3 separate regions of the Homo sapiens genome follow, and all the other regions are linked to region 3. Evidence: fine-mapped expression QTL. A gene starts in region 3. Each other region holds a variant in brackets. All regions are shown on one strand. Distances are between the middles of the regions.

Region 1 (5,231 bases), 57 kb after region 3:
TTCATTGTTTCTTTCTTTTTTTTTTTTTTTTGGAGGCTGAGTCTCGCTCTGTCACCCAGGCTGGAGTGCAGTGGCGTGATCTCGGCTCACTGCAACCTCCGCCTCCTGGGTTCAAGTGATTCTTGTGCCTCAGCCTCCCGAGTAGCTGGGACTACAGGTGCCCGCTACCACGCCAGGCTAATTTTTTTTGTATTTTTAGTAGAGACAGGGTTTCTTTTCATATGAAGGTAGTTCAACTCCTAAGGATCTGGGATAGGAAATAAGAGAAGAAAAATGCTATTTGTAGAATCGCCTCTTTGTGGGTCTAATTTCTTCTCATCAGTAACTATAATTGCCAAAATAATATTTTTAAAATTCTGGGAAATATAAATTCACTTTGATAATAGTTCATTCTGAATGTATGTTTTAAAAACTCTAGATAAATATATTTAAATGCTCTTATATTTTAACGTCCTCCAAATTGAATGGATTTTGAAGAATCCACTCAAATATTTTTATGTTCAGTCAGGTCTTATATTAGTTTATGAGAACCAAGACTCAGTTTTGTACTGCGAGGCAGTGAGTTATTCATATGTTTGTGATCATTGATTGTGGTCAGAACCACAAAGCTGAAAGACTGCAAAAGGAACATGTGAACCTTCTATGCTCAATATACTGACTTTGGAGTGGAATTTGCTTTTAATTAATGATATTTCCTCAGTTTTCCATGGAAAATGTGAATTTTCCCACCTTTGCCAGAGAAAATACTTATATTATGATGTTCAAGCCCAAAGTTTTTTTATTACATTGCAAGGCTAAATTAAATTATTCTAGTTTACAAAGTTGCTAGATAACTGGAAAGGAATTATCTTTAAAAATGGATTTTGGGGCTAGGCATGGTGGCTCATGACTGTAATCCCAGCACTTTCGGAGGCCGAGGAGGGAGAATCTCTTGAGCCCAGGAGTTCGAGACCAGCCTGGGCAACATGGCTTGACCTCATCTCTACAAAAACAATTAAAAATTAGCTGGGACTGGTGGCGTGTGCCTGTAGTCCCAGCTACTCGAGAGGCTGAAGTGGGAGGATCGCTTGAGCCTGGGAGGTCAAGGCTGCAGTGGGCAGTGATCACACCACTGCAATTCAGCCTGGGTGACAGAGTGAGACCCTGTCTCAAAAAAACAAACAAACAAAAAAGGATATTGGGATTTTATTAATATCATCTTAATGTGTTTGTTATTTTAGTGTACCACAAAACTATTTGTGAAATTTGTAGTAAAGTACATCTTCCCTTAGAAATGAAATTTTACTTCAAGGAGGAATACTTGGCTTTCAGTAGGGAACATATTTTATTTTAAAGTAGGTTTATATATATATATTATATATATCTATGTAGTTATATATAGTTTATATATAGTTATATATAGCTAGTATTTTATTCATACATTAAGCTATTGAAGGTAACTTTATGTATAAGTATAGCTTTGTTACAAGTTTACTTTAATTTCCTGTCTCATGATCTAGGTTTTTAAATTTTATTTTTTTTAACTATAACAAGATTACAATAAAAAGATCAACTTTCATGGTGAGTCCTAAAATCTCAAGCCAAAAACTTTGCCATGATCTAAAATATCCATTTTCTAAGAAACTGTCAGTTCTCACTGAGTTTATTCCTAAGATTGTTCATACTTTTTCTGAGGGGTTTCAAAAGTAGAAAACGAGGGGGAAGTGTGTTTTGATTTTTGAAGCCCTTTCCTAGTAGCTGATTAAAGAAGAAACTTGGTAAAAGTAGATGAGAATAAATATTAAGAGTTAAGATGCTTAATGCATCAGGAAAGGTTGAAAGCAGAATTTTCTGAACAAAATGGAAAATCCACTTGTAGGACAGTTAATTCATTTTACACTCTGAAAGGGAAGTTCTCATTGCTGCATTTATCTAAGATCTCATTTTTCCTGAGGTATTTCAGGGGGCAGGTCTGGTTCTTTTAGTTTGAGAATTGGTCCTCCTGCCAAA[C/T]GCCTGTTTTCTTCTTTAACAATTTCTTTTCTTTTCCTTAGTCTTCACATGCATAAATAATATGTAGTCATTGACAAATTAGCAGTAGTACATCTCTTCCAAGCCTAAAAGAAAACTAAAAGATTGCTTTAATTTCATAAATAATAAAAGAAATAAGCTTTCCCAGATGGCCATGGGTTTTTAAATGCATGGAGACAGCACATTTGGAGGGATTCTTTGTTACTGTATAAATATTACCTATTAACATGTAATATTTATATATTTGCGCTACACTTTTGTATTTGTTTAGGTTATGTCATATTGTGGAGGGTAGTGTAATAGCTCAGTGTATTTAATAATTTCCCCTCCTTGATCTTGGAACTGTTTATACATAGCTGAACAAATACTTTATGAAAACAAGTCAGCAGCCTACTTTTCTTTTTCTTACAATGCATTTTTCAAGAATGCACAGGGATGGTCTACACGTTAAGCCCCTAGCTTTTGCATACTAAGTTTGCGAAGTTAAGTGGCAGACCTCGTGGGTCCTCTTCCCCCAGAGCACCATGTGGCGGAGCACACTGCTGAGAGCTACATGCTGCAGTGGCAGCGTGGACACCTTTCCAACTATCAGTACCTCCTTCACCTCAACAACCTGGCCGACCGCAGCTGCAACGACCTCTCCCAGTACCCTGTGTTTCCATGGATAATACATGATTATTCCAGCTCAGAACTAGGTAACTGCCACACGTGGAATTCTGACCAAGTTGAGTGGGGAGTAGTCATCTGTATTGTTTTTAAAGGACAGAATAAATTCTATTTTATAATTGTGATGTGACATGTGAACAAATTACAACTCATTTCAGTTGTATTGCTAAGGACTGCCAATTTCCATTCCAGGATACTATATAAGTGTTACGTAAGTGTTTCATGTATGTTTTTTCCACCATACTTCTTGAAGGACACACACAGAAAAAATGGGCATGATTTTAACCCAGGGTTATCATTATTACCTATAAGTACCACGTTTTGAAATATTTGCTTCTCACTTTGAAAATTTCACTCACCTTATATTATTTTTAAAAATCACATTAAAAACTGTGATTATTTGTTATAGAACACTTGGAAAGTCCTGAAATAATCAAAGAAGAAAATTAAAATCATCCATAATTATATTACAGAGATAACCACTTTACCTTTGGGGTATATCTACTCTTCTCTTGCTACCACAGATTATTTTAAGAAAAATGTAATTGTATTGTAACTTTATTTTGTAATATTTAAAAATTATATATTGTGAACAGTTAGTTCCTCTTGACACATTATCTTGAACCTTTGTCCTTGAAAGAGATAATAGATTTTCTAGAAATATGATAAAGTATTTCTCTGAAAATATTTAGCTCACTAGTTCTCAAATAGGCTAATATTGAAGAATAATAATATTCACTAGAATTCGAATGTAGAAAGTAAATCTTGGTAGAAGAATAATGGCTTTTAAAATTTTGTTGTTGTTGTTGTTTTACTTGGAATATATATATGTTCCTTAATCAGAAACTTTTTTAAAAAAATTAATGTTCAGGGCATTGTCAAATTAGAGATATTGCTCTTAAGTGGTTGTGTCTAACTTAAAACTCAAAATTGCTAACCTTTTCTTTACATCTACATAAATAACTAACAAAAATAACTCTCATGGATTGCTCTCAATTTTTAAAAAAACTTTTGTGGAAGTAAATGTGTATATTTGAATTAATTCAGGAGGTTAATGGTACTAAGTATAAGCTGAAGTTATTTATTGATTTATGTTTATAGATTTGTCAAATCCAGGAACCTTCCGGGATCTCAGTAAGCCAGTAGGGGCCCTAAATAAGGAACGGCTGGAGAGACTACTGGTATGTGGACTTAGAGATTCTTGGTTTCTAAGCAACACGAGAAGCCATGGCCTGTGTTTTTATGGAAGGAAATTCGTTTCTCCAAGGCTTAGGGGAATTATACCAGTGACTCTACGTAGAGTTTTTTCTTACTTTTCTCCTGACCGTGAATTAGCTGCTCACCATTTGCATTTCTTGTCTGCAGTTTAGGAAGGAGGAGGGCAACCTGTTTACAGGTTCACTGAATTATTTTCATGAAGGCATTCTGTGGTAAATCGCATAAGAGACACATAAAATCAGTTCTATTTAATCTAGTGCCAACATTTTGTTACCATTAAGCCAGGGAAACCAAAATACTTGTCTCAGGAATGCTGTTTAGCCACAGATTTTCTTTCCCTCTTATCTTCTCCTTTTCTTATCTAACAGAGAAATTAAGGAATATGGTATATCTATGTTATGATTTCTTTTAGGCTTTTTCTACTTGTCAGTTATTATTTCATAGCCAACACTTAGCTCTATTTTTTTTTTTTTTCTGTATTCTAGACACGCTACCAGGAAATGCCTGAACCAAAGTTCATGTATGGGAGTCACTACTCTTCCCCGGGTTATGTACTTTTTTATCTTGTTAGGATTGGTAAGATTCTTTATCATTACCCCCAATTAAATTTTATTTCACTGTATTCTTCAATGATTCTGTGACCTGACTTACCTCTGACTTTTTCCCCTCTAGCACCAGAGTATATGCTGTGCCTGCAGAATGGAAGATTTGATAATGCAGATAGAATGTTCAACAGGTTTGATACAAATGCCTTGCTTATCATTTTTAACACTTTCTGATTGTATATATACAACATACTTGTTTCAAAGCACTGGATATAATAAAAAAGTAAAGAAATGTAAAAAATCACTAATTGTTCTATCTATTCCTCTCAGGCTTTTTCTAGACATGTATATGTGTGTGTAAATGTGAGAACATATTTTATGTACAGCTTTTTGTCCTACCTTTTGTAGCCTAATATTAAATCTTAAAGTTTTTCCCATATTATTAGATATTCTTCAAAACAATGATTCTTTTTTAAAATTATTGTATCACATTCTAACATATGCCATATTTTATGTCAACTTCTTTTCTCCATTGTTGGGCATTTAGATTGTTTCCCACACTTTATTATTCTTGATAATTTTGCTGTGAATTGAATACAGCTCCCTGTGTGTATTTAGATGGCTTTACTTTTTAAATTATAAAAGTAATATTTTCTTGCCAAAAAAATCAGCAACTATAAAAAAGGAAATAAGTTTACTTGGTATCCCACCACACTGAGATAATAATTGTTGTAAATTTTTTGGTATGTCCTTTTCATTTTTTTTGAACTCTACACATATCTAATAATAATTCCT
Region 2 (5,231 bases), 65 kb after region 3:
TTTGCTGATGTTGTTTGTTTTCAGCTATAGACTGTAAGGGAAATCAAATCGCTTTTATTTTCTGGCAATTGAATATGAGTGAAAGTTGGCCATATATGTTTTGATGTGGTTCTCTTTCTCTTCTGTGGTTTTGAAGCTGGTGTTTGATCCTTAGCTATTTGCCTTTTCATTCTTACAGTCCTAGCTGTCCAGTCTGCCTTCCCAGTCACTGTCAGCCCTGCTGTCTTCCAGAAGGGACTTTCTCTGGCCCTAATTATGCTCTTCTATACCCACATACAGATCTTTTTTTTTTTTTTTTTTGAGACGGAGTCTTGCTTTGTCCCCCACGCTGGAGTGCAGTGGCGCCATCTCGGCTCACTGCAAGCTCCGCCTCCCGGGTTCACGCCGCCGTTCTCCTGCCTCAGCCTCCTGAGTAGCTGGGACTACAGGCGCCCGCCACCACGCCCGGCTAATTTTTGTATTTTTAGTAGAGACAGGGTTTCACTGTGTTAGCCAGGATGGTCTCGATCTCCTGACCTCGTGATCCACCCTCCTCGGCCTCCCAAAGTGCTGGGATTACAGGCCTGAGCCACCGCGCTCGGCCCCACATACATCTTGAATTCAAAGTGCTCTCTCTTCTTCATTGGATTTCACTTATTTAACATTTGACAAACATTTACAGGGTATCTGTTCTGCGCTGGGCATGTGCTAGGCACTAAATTGAACTTGACCCAGTTCTCACATCTAATATTTGGAAAGGTAGGAAAGAACACTCACCTTTCTCCAGTTACCCAGGTTTTAGATTTTACCTAAGACAACTTCAAACCTACAGGCTTCCAGAAGGAGGTTGACACTCTGTGGAGCTTTGGGAGCAAAATCACTTTTTATCTCCTATCCTCCTGTCTGTTCCAAGGACATCCAGACATTTTAGGCATACATAGATGAGCATTCTCTCAAGCATGGAGAAATAGCTTCCTGGAGTTACATGACCCAGGGGTAGCTTCTTTAAGAGAGAATACTCTAGAGGGTTAAATCATGAAGATCACAGGATTATCTTGTGATGCTGTTTCAAACTGCACTCTGCTTAGTCACCAGGCTGTAACCACTGTCATGTGATTGTTTTAAGATGGTAATTGTTTCAGCCCTTCTTAAAGCAGAAGTAAAAGGATTACTCCTGCCAGAAGCCCTTGCGGTAATTGATTTCATCTCTGCTTTCCCCACCCCACACCAGAACAAAATTGTTGCATTCTTAGGCAACTGTCAGGTTTTTGAAACAATGTTGACAAGGAAATGATGACTCAGTCTTGTATTTCCCCAAATTCATAAGTTAGAGGCCGAGTGAAAACTTTGCAAACATTGTTAAAGTATAAAAAGATTCTAGTATTATTCAAAGATACTTTTTATCTTTCTCTATACAATTTTTTCCTTGACTAACGTGGAACCATCTAACAGGTACATTTCAAAGCAGTTATATTGTGACAGGGTGTTTCATTTCTTAGTTGTTTGATTTTAATAGAAAATATTGTTAATCTGATGCTGTTGTCTGTTGGTAACTTAGTTGACTTAGCAAAAATTTAATGTCGTCTCTCCAGGTGAAGAGTCTTTTGAAGACCTGACCGAAGAAAGCAAAACACTGGCCTGGAATAACATCACCAAACTGCAGTTACACGAGCACTATAAAATCCACAAAGAGTAAGAATATCTCTGCTTCTTCTCAGCAGCTGATAGTCCTGGTAAAAGTTAGGGTCTTGGCATGGGATTAAACTGTTTTAAGCTGAGTCAGAGGGAAAATTCCCTTTCAATGTTGTCTTTATTTTTAAAAATCTCCCCAAAATGTCTATAGTGATCTCCACCTGAGGTTGATGTAGTAGGGAAAGTTTGGCACGAAATGATTTGTGGTGGCTACCGTGCTGTCATTTCTGCAGTCTGTCACTTCACAGTACAAGATGTGGTCGGCAGAGAGCAGCCAGTTTTGTGCCTCTCAAATTGGAGTACACAGCTCCTTGAATCTTTGATGGGAGAAGTGTGATGTATACCCCACGAGTGTTGGATTTACACATAATGTAGGTGAAAAGGCACCTTTTAAAAAAATTAGCTCTCCCAGAGAACATTGCAAAGTTCACATGAATTTTAAAAATAATTATGCTTCTAAGAAATTGGGCTTGCTGTTGGACCCAGAGATGATATGTGTGTTCTCTGCCCTCTCTCATTAAGACCTTCATGTTCTCTGGTAGAAAGGCTCGAGAAGCACTGACCTAGCCTGTTCATCCTGCTACAGAGAGGAAACCCAGGTCCAGAGACTAGGCCCCACCTAGCTCCATGACGACAGACAGCCCCTCCGGCATACAGGTCATGGGTGGAGCTGGGCATACTGCTGTGCATTAGATGGATGGCTTCACATCACAGTCCAGCCTCCCGAAGAGAAACAAGGAGTTTTGGCTGATTCATGATGACAATGGCTGTCTTTTCTCAACTTCTCTAAATGGCACATAGGAAGGGACCTTGTAATCCAAGGTAGTGAAGACTGAATGATCCTTTAAGAGGACAGGCTGGAACCAATTTTCTCATCATTGAATAGTCACTGAGTAAATTAGCTTCAGTAATCAGCAAGTGAAGTGACTGTGAAGAAGAGTTTGTCCTTTTGGTGATGGTCAAACGAGGGGGAATAGAAGGAGAAGAGTTTTCCAATTGCCAGAAATTGTCAGGAATATGTAAAGCATTGCATGTGGAACACAGGGAAGCAAAGAGTGGGGATGTTTTCTAGCCACAGGCGTTGCCAGAACGTTAGAAGGTGCCAAGCAGTGATTTGGTAATGGCAGGTTTATGCTGGGACAGATCC[G/A]GCAGACATGCTGTGAAGAAAAAAATTAAGGAAACTTGGTAAAATTAAATCAAGGATATGAAACAAAGAGGGTATCCTAACACATGATGAGTAGTAATTTGTGAAACTTTGTTTTTGAGCAGAGCAGTTACTGGAATCACGGTCTCTCGCAATGGATCTTCAGTATTCACAACATCCCAAGGTCAGTGTTCCTCCCCGAAAGGCGGCTTAACCAAAATCCTAGAATGTCTGAGTTCTTTATTATTTAGCTCGTGGTCAAGGACTGCACTTGCATGTGCTGCCTCCACATAAAGTAAACTTAGAGCAGTTCCTTTGTGGTACATTACATAGAGTTTCATGGTAATTTGCCAAAAATAATAATGAAACATCTTTCTGTTGCTGATGAGGTTTCCCAGAGTTGAGGATAGAGGACAGAAACAGCCTCCTTTCCACACCCTTGCTGGGTCAGGCACTTCCTGCCTGCCCATGAGAGGTGCGCTGTCCACTTGTTGGGGTTGGCTGTGAGTAGCAAGTGCTGTATCAGAAATTGATGTGTGCCTGTCAGCACGTGGAAATGCAGATTTGCTGTTACGGTTTGCAGTTTTGTCATTCAGTGTATATTTCTTCGGGATATTTGATTTAGCTCAAAATCAAATTCATGTATTATTTAATATGCTTATACATTATCAAAATTATAAAAACCCTTGCAGTGTGTCATTGATATGACTTATAGCTGTAAAGCAGAAAGCATCCCTTACTATATACACCATTGTTCTCTCCCTGGTAGTCTGCATTATATATTATTCATTAAAGTATGTCTTGGCCTTGTCATGTTGAGAGCACTGTGTTGGCACTCTGGAAGATGCAGAGATGGAAGGGTAGTATCTTTGCTTCCTGCTTCCATGAGAAAACAACTTGTTCTGACAAAGTTTGTAACTTTATAAAGTAAGGCTACTCGTTATTTAGTCTTTATCATAGGAGATTATATTTTTCATTCATTAAGACAAAGTGCTATCCAACTAAACACTTTCAGGAAAATCAGAATTACTACTCTCAGATTCTGTTATCATTGTTTATGATCTGTAGCATTTCATTCTGTTCTTTTTCAAATACTGTCTTGGATTGTATATAAAAAAATTTTCCACAAAGCATAGAAGTGATTCTACACAGTAGATCAAAAGGAAGTTCATGTGCAGTTCCCAAACTGGGCCATGCCAGGGTCACCGAGGCACTTCTCTGATAGAAGGAAGCAATCTGTATTTTGCCAGGATTTCTACCTGTGGAGTTTGCCAAAAATTATAGCCTCAGACAAAGTGCTTTATCTTTAAGCAAAACCTGTGTTCTTAGCAGGATTTGTCTGGGATGGCTTGTTAAATCGTTCAGCACAGTTGTACTTGTATGACCTTGTTAACCATGAATTTGATGAGCGTTGTGGCTTCAAACCACTGAGGCTTATTAAGCATTATGTCACTCCTCTGTGGATTTTCACAATAAAGGAGAGAGAGGTTTTTTTTTTGTTGTTGTTGTTTTTGTTTTTGTTTTTTTTTGAGACAGAGTCTTGCTCCGTCGCCCAGGCTGGAGGGCAATGGCACGATCTTGGCTCACTGCAACCTCCGCCTCCTGGGTTCAAGCGATTCTCCCGCCTCAGCCTCCTGAGTAGCTGGGTTCACAGGCACCCACCATCGTGCCTGGCTAATTTTTGTATATTTGTAGAGATGGGGTTTTACCATGTTGGCCAGGTTGGTCTTGAACTCCTGACCTCAGGTGTTCCACCTGCCTCGGCCTCCCAACGTGCTGGGATTACAGGCATGGGCCACCACGCCCGGCCGAGAGAGTTTAAAAATAAAGTCAAAAGCTTTTGTTTTTTTCTGTTTGTTTTTCTCATATTTAGATTTTCATAATTCATATTACTGATTTATATGTATCCTGATGGTCACCCCAAAATTACATATCTTCTTCTAGTATACAGTATGTTTAGGTATGTGGGCAGGCACAGAACCCACCACTTATGAGCTTAGCTTTTACTGCAGTCTTTAACATGATGACCTCTAGTACAGGGGATCCTTGATTTCAAGAAAAACGTCTTTTTTTTTCTTTTATTATTTTCTTTTTCCATTTTTTTGGTTCCCTGACTGAGAAATGAACCCAGGCTGCTGCAGTGAGAGCACCAAATCCTAACCACTAGACATCAAGGAGAGAAAAACATCTTTATAGAACCGACTGGTTTCTGGTTTTTTTTGTAGGATGTCTCAAATTAATCATCTTAAATAGATTTTGTGGTGAATGCTCAGAATTGCCTAAGAGAATCAAAAGCAAGGTTGGGAAGACTATCAGATCTAATTATACTGCTCAGGGGAAAGTTCAAGTGATACTGTGTTCATTCTTCTGTTTTCGTTTTCAAATTAATGCTGAAGAATATCTTATTGAGGCTCAT
Region 3 (5,231 bases):
GTTCTGCACTGCACTTGGACACGTGGAAGGGACTCAGTCACAGTCAAAGGGTACCCAGGCACCTTCATTCATTCCCAAAATTTTTAATGGGTGTGCTCAGTATACATAGCATTTTGTCCAGTGCTGCTAGGGGTCAAATTCAAAAGACCCAGCCACAACTTTTATTCTTGGTTTCCCTACCTTCTCTTCACAGTCCTGCGACTTACTAGAGAAAGCTGAGATGTACATTTACCTTGAAGCTTCTAAAAATGTAACCCTGCAAAACCTGATCCTTAAGACAGTATGAGATATGTTTCCACAAGCATACAATTTAGAGGTTTGGATCCTTTTGTAGTTCATAAGTGTGATGATTGGGTGTTCATGTGCAGCTGTGTGATGTGCCGCCCTTGAACCTTGTTACGAGTTTGGCACATTACCTGTTTAACGTGAAAAAGAAACTTAGAGGCGTGTTATTCAAGAATCCCTCAAAGGTAAACAATCAGAGGCTCATTCTCAGCATATATTAAGAAGTTATAACCACACTGAGATACCACTCATACCACTAGAATAGCTCTAAACAAAAGTCAGGTAATAATAAATACTGGTAAAGATGTAGAGAAACTGGAACCCTTCTACGCTGCTGGTGGGCATGTTAAATCGTACAGCCACTTTGGAAAACAGTCTGGCAGTCTCTCAAACATTTAGACATGGAGTTACCATATGACCCAGTTCCATGGTGGGCAGGCCTATACAAATCTATCTCAAAGTCCTGGGATGCCGGGAGGTGGAAGAAAGAGGCTGACAAATAAAGTTCCTTGGGAAGAAACATTTAATAGCGACTAAGGAACAGAAGCCATGTCCATATCTGTGTCTTGGGCAGCAAGATGAGATGGTGGATTGCTGTGCTATTAACCCCCAGACTCAATGTTTTTTTTTTTTTTTCTTTTGAGATAAGGTCTCTCTCTCTCTGTATTGCCTAGGTTGGGGTGCAGTGGTACGATCATGGCTCACAGAAGCCTCAAACTCCTGGACTCAAGTGATCCTCCTGCCTCAGCCTCTCCAGTAGCTGGGACTATAGGTGTGTGCCACTGCACCCAGGTAATTTTTATTTTTTATTTTTTGTAGAGACAGGGTCTTGCTTTGTTGCCCAGGCTGGTCTCGAACTCCTGGCTTCAAGCAATCCTCCTGCCTCAGCCTCTCCAGTAGCTGGGACTATAGGTGTGTGCCACTGTACCCAGGTAATTTTTATTTTTTATTTTTTGTAGAGACAGGGTCTTGCTTTGTTGCCCAGGCTGGTCTCGAACTCCTGGCTTCAAGGAATCCTCCAGCTTCAACTTCCAAAAGCATTGGGATTACCGGCATGAGCCATCACTCCAGCCCCTTAGGGCTTATATACCATAGGGGAGGGGTGGTTCAGAAGGGATGTGTAGGACAATTGAAGTATAATAACATCAAGTTGTTTGAATTAAGGACAGAACATACTGGGTAGATACCTGCTCTTACACAAGGAACAATAGATAAAGTAGAAATCTTAGAGGCCTTCCCAGAACTGGGGTCAATCAGAAGTCAACACGGAGGATTAGCTTCCAAGATGGAGCTGCTTTCGCCTCCACATCCAGCAATTCCACTCTTAGATTCCAATTCCACTCAACAGAAATGGAAACATAGGTCCATAAAAAAACTGTACATGACTGTGTACAGCAGCCTTATTCACAATAGCCAAAATGTGGAAACAACTGAAATGTCCATCAACTGATGAATGGATAAACAAAATGCAACAGAATATGCTCCAGCAATCTAAAGGAACGAAGTACTGTACAGATACATGCTACAACATAGATGAACCTTGAAAGCATTACGCTAAATGAAAGAAGCCAGACACAAAAGGCCACATATTGTATGGCTCCATTTATATGAAATATCCAGAATAGGCAAACCCATAGAGACAGGAAATTGATTATTGTTTGCTAGGGCTGGGGTTTGGAGGGTAGAGTTAGGAAGAGTGACAGCTAGAGGGTATGGGTTTCTTTTACATGTGATGAAAATGTTCTCAAATTGTGGTGATTGTTGAACATATCTGGAAATATACTAAAAATCGCTGAATGGTATACTTTAAATGGTTGACTTGTTTGGTATGTGAGTTATATCCCAATAAAGCTGTTATATAAAAAAAAATCATGCGAGCAATTATCTCAACAATCAAGAGACTGTGTTAAAGATTCTTTGCTTGGCCAAACTTCAGTTAGGCTTCTGAATCTTCTCCCAGGTCCTTGTGTGCACTTCCTTGTAAATGCAGTGTTAGGAAGTAACACTGCCACGGCAGTTTAGCAAGAATCCCCCACCCTCCATATGTGATCAAAATTCTTTACTCCTACCCTTAGTATCTGACCCCCTGGCCTGCCTTCACTGGGACTCCTGTTAGGTTGGTTCAGCCAGAATTTCCCCCAGAATTGATGTTTCCTCTTAGCAGTTTTCCGAACACCTGCTCCTTGCTCCTTGGCTATAAATCTCCACTTATTCCTGGTGTATTTGGAATAGTTACGACTGAGTTGCCTTCACCCCTTTAACTTCCGTCTTTTTTTTTTTTTCACAATGGAGGACACAAAACGTTGTTATTTCAAGTCTTTGTGGCCAACAGATTGGTGGTTTATGGGCCAGCATCCCTTTTTATGCGTAAAATATTTAAAACGCAGCCTGCAATGGTTGGTAAAGTGGTGAAACGTTTAGTGTGTGAGGTCGGATCCTGGTCTGGCCGCTGGCCCTGGCGATCCTCTGAGGCGGCCTGAGTTTGGGGCGCCTCGTGTCACCGCGCGCCCCTCCTCCGGGCCTGAGTCACGGTGCCGCCGGAGTCCCCACGCGAGGATGCTGCGGTGAGCGCGGCCGGGACGCCGCGTCGGGCTCTCGGCCGCCCAGCGGCGCCGCAGGGGAAGCCAGGCCGGCAGCCGCGCGCTCCCCAGCCGGCCACCAATCCCGCCCTCCCCGGCTCCTCCGGACCTCCTCGGCAGGCGGCGGCGGGGCCTGCCTGTGCGCTCTGCGCCCGCCCGCGCCTACCCTCCATGGCGTTTATCCGGAAGAAGCAGCAGGAGCAGCAGCTGCAGCTCTACTCCAAGGAGAGGTGCGCGCCCAGCTGAAGAAGGGCCCAGCCGGGGGCCTAGTCGGGGCCGGTCGTGGGGACGCCGGCCGGAGATCTGAGGGACGGGAGGCGGCGTGGGGGCCGGGCACGGAGGCAGGGGCCGGACGCGTGTCCAGGGCCTGGGCTGGGGGCTGTGGCGGAAACCTGAGGTCGGGGTGAGAGGCCGGGGGCCTGGTCTGGGCCGGAGCCTGCCGGGGACAGGAACTGGATGACGGGCCAGGCCAGATTCCACCGCGGAGCCGAGGCATGCCGAGCTATCCGGCAGTGCAGGTCCCGGCGGCCGCGGGCAGCTCACCCGGAAGGCCGCGCGGGGTCCGGGCGTGGATCCCGGCACGCGAGCCCGGGCGTTCGCAGGGGAGGGTGAGTACGCTGCCCGGCGGGCACCCCCTTTCTAATCCTTCCCCTTAATCGGGTCCAGGCACTCGGCGCCGGCGCCGCAGAGTTGGTCGCCGGGCGGCACCGAGCAGGCCGGCGACCACCCACTCGCATTGCCGCGCCTTTTTCCTGCCGACTCCTTTAGACACAGGACTAGCTCCATGCCCTGGAAGGCTGGGAGGGGGGCCGCCGGAAAGGCCTGATTCTGAGGAAAGCCAAGGTCCTGCCTCCCAAACACTTGCTCCCCGCGCAGTGGACCTTGTGTTGGAAAGCTTTGCAGTCGAAATCGCGGTGCGGCAGCGGAGCACTCATTCTCACCAGCATCCCAGTAAGGATTTGGGATCCCTTGAGCTAAAATGGTCTCACAGCAGTTCCCTTTCAGATATGCTGGACCTGTCCCCAAGGGAAGTCTCATAAGAAAGCTCACTTCGGCTCTATGTATAGTTCCCAGGGCATTTTTGGTGACAGAAACAACTTGCTCGGTCTGCAGCTCAGATGCCAAAAGGAAAGGGGGGCTGAATCATTTTACAGACACACTGTTTTGATTGTGAGAGCCACAGATCTTCCAGTGCTGCTAGCCTGTCACGTTGTCTCATCAGTGAATACCAGCAAAGCAGGTTACACGTGGGAATACAAGTGCAGACTTCAAGATTTGTCTACACTTGTTTTATAAGGGTTGACTCGACCCCTTTGATCCAGACATTCATCTTTCTCTAATCTGTAATGTTGGTCTAACCAGTGTGTCCACAGTACGAAATGTCATTTTTCTACTGTAGAGAAGAAGATACGATACACAGAAAACGTATCTCAGATATGGCTTTCAAAAATGTTTTTGGTGATGTGATTAGGTTTTAGTCACAGAAAGGGTTGTTTATTAAATAACTGAGCCCTAACTATGTAACTCACACTTGGGGATGCCCTTCTGACTGAATTTGTAATGCATTTTTCTTGTGGAAAGAGCTTGAGTGGAGATTCTTTGTTTAGTACCAACAATATTAAGACTTGTTGGTGCTCTGTATTGAGTGGGTGAACATTCATATTTAAATTGTGAGAACTTTGACACACTTGAATTGGCATCATGTTGTATGATATGAGTCATTCGTGCCAATACTCATATTGGCCTTTTTGATATACAGGGAAACGTTTTTTCCTTGGTTCTGGCTGTTATTTCGATGAAGTAATTTGTGTTCAATTTGGCTAGCTCATACAGCTCCGTGGTGTCACACAAACCTTGAAACCTGTACTTGCATTTCCATGTATATGCTGCTTTGTTAGAATTCATTGATTAGACAACAACGTGATAGGCTGGCAGTGTTCAGAGAGAACTCTAGCTCTTGGCAACCAAAACATTTATCTATCCAGTCAGGAGGCATCAACTGTTCCTGAGCATCAGTCATCTGAAAAAGTTGGCGCCATGTGTTTTATATTTATTTGAATTATAACTTGCTGAGTGCCCAAATTGTTTAGTGCTCTGCCCCATGGCTTTGCAACCTGGGCTGATGGGCATACTCCATTCAATGCATAGAATATGCATTTGAATGACAGGAATCTGTCTCACATCAGGTATGCACTGGAATCAAGGAGTCTCTTTTATAAATCTTAGAATTCATTCTGAAACAGAGGAATATTTTAAGGCAACTTTATTAAGCCCCAAATTTACCATTTCTGCCCAGATTTTTCCGGGTTTATCCCCTTGCATCAATAAACACAAATTAGCAAATGGATTGGATTCGTCATTGGCTCC

What was found.
Region 1: its variant is fine-mapped to the expression of NSMAF in whole blood (TOPMed, PIP above 0.99).
Region 2: its variant is fine-mapped to the expression of NSMAF in whole blood (TOPMed, PIP 0.99).

The regions. Positions count from the first base shown.
Region 1 is chr8:58,600,681-58,605,911 of GRCh38, reverse strand. It overlaps NSMAF (neutral sphingomyelinase activation associated factor), which reads left to right. Exons shown (of 31, transcript NM_003580.4): 13 at 2,526-2,702; 14 at 3,775-3,854; 15 at 4,377-4,467; 16 at 4,564-4,627. Among named protein-coding and RNA genes, the nearest start is that of SDCBP, 50 kb to the right of the region's middle. The variant C/T (reference allele first, on the strand shown) is at 1,990.
Region 2 is chr8:58,592,000-58,597,230 of GRCh38, reverse strand. It overlaps NSMAF (neutral sphingomyelinase activation associated factor), which reads left to right. Exons shown (of 31, transcript NM_003580.4): 22 at 1,572-1,671; 23 at 2,941-2,999. Among named protein-coding and RNA genes, the nearest start is that of SDCBP, 41 kb to the right of the region's middle. RefSeq lists enhancers at 1,006-1,055, 1,405-2,604. The variant G/A (reference allele first, on the strand shown) is at 2,819.
Region 3 is chr8:58,657,436-58,662,666 of GRCh38, reverse strand. It overlaps NSMAF (neutral sphingomyelinase activation associated factor), which reads left to right and starts at 2,814. Exons shown (of 31, transcript NM_003580.4): 1 at 2,814-3,094. The coding sequence starts at 3,036. LOC124902083 (small nucleolar RNA U13) reads left to right here and starts at 323; the gene lies at 323-426. RefSeq lists silencers at 2,737-3,076, 3,087-3,536 and enhancers at 3,248-3,810, 3,987-4,276, 3,811-4,374.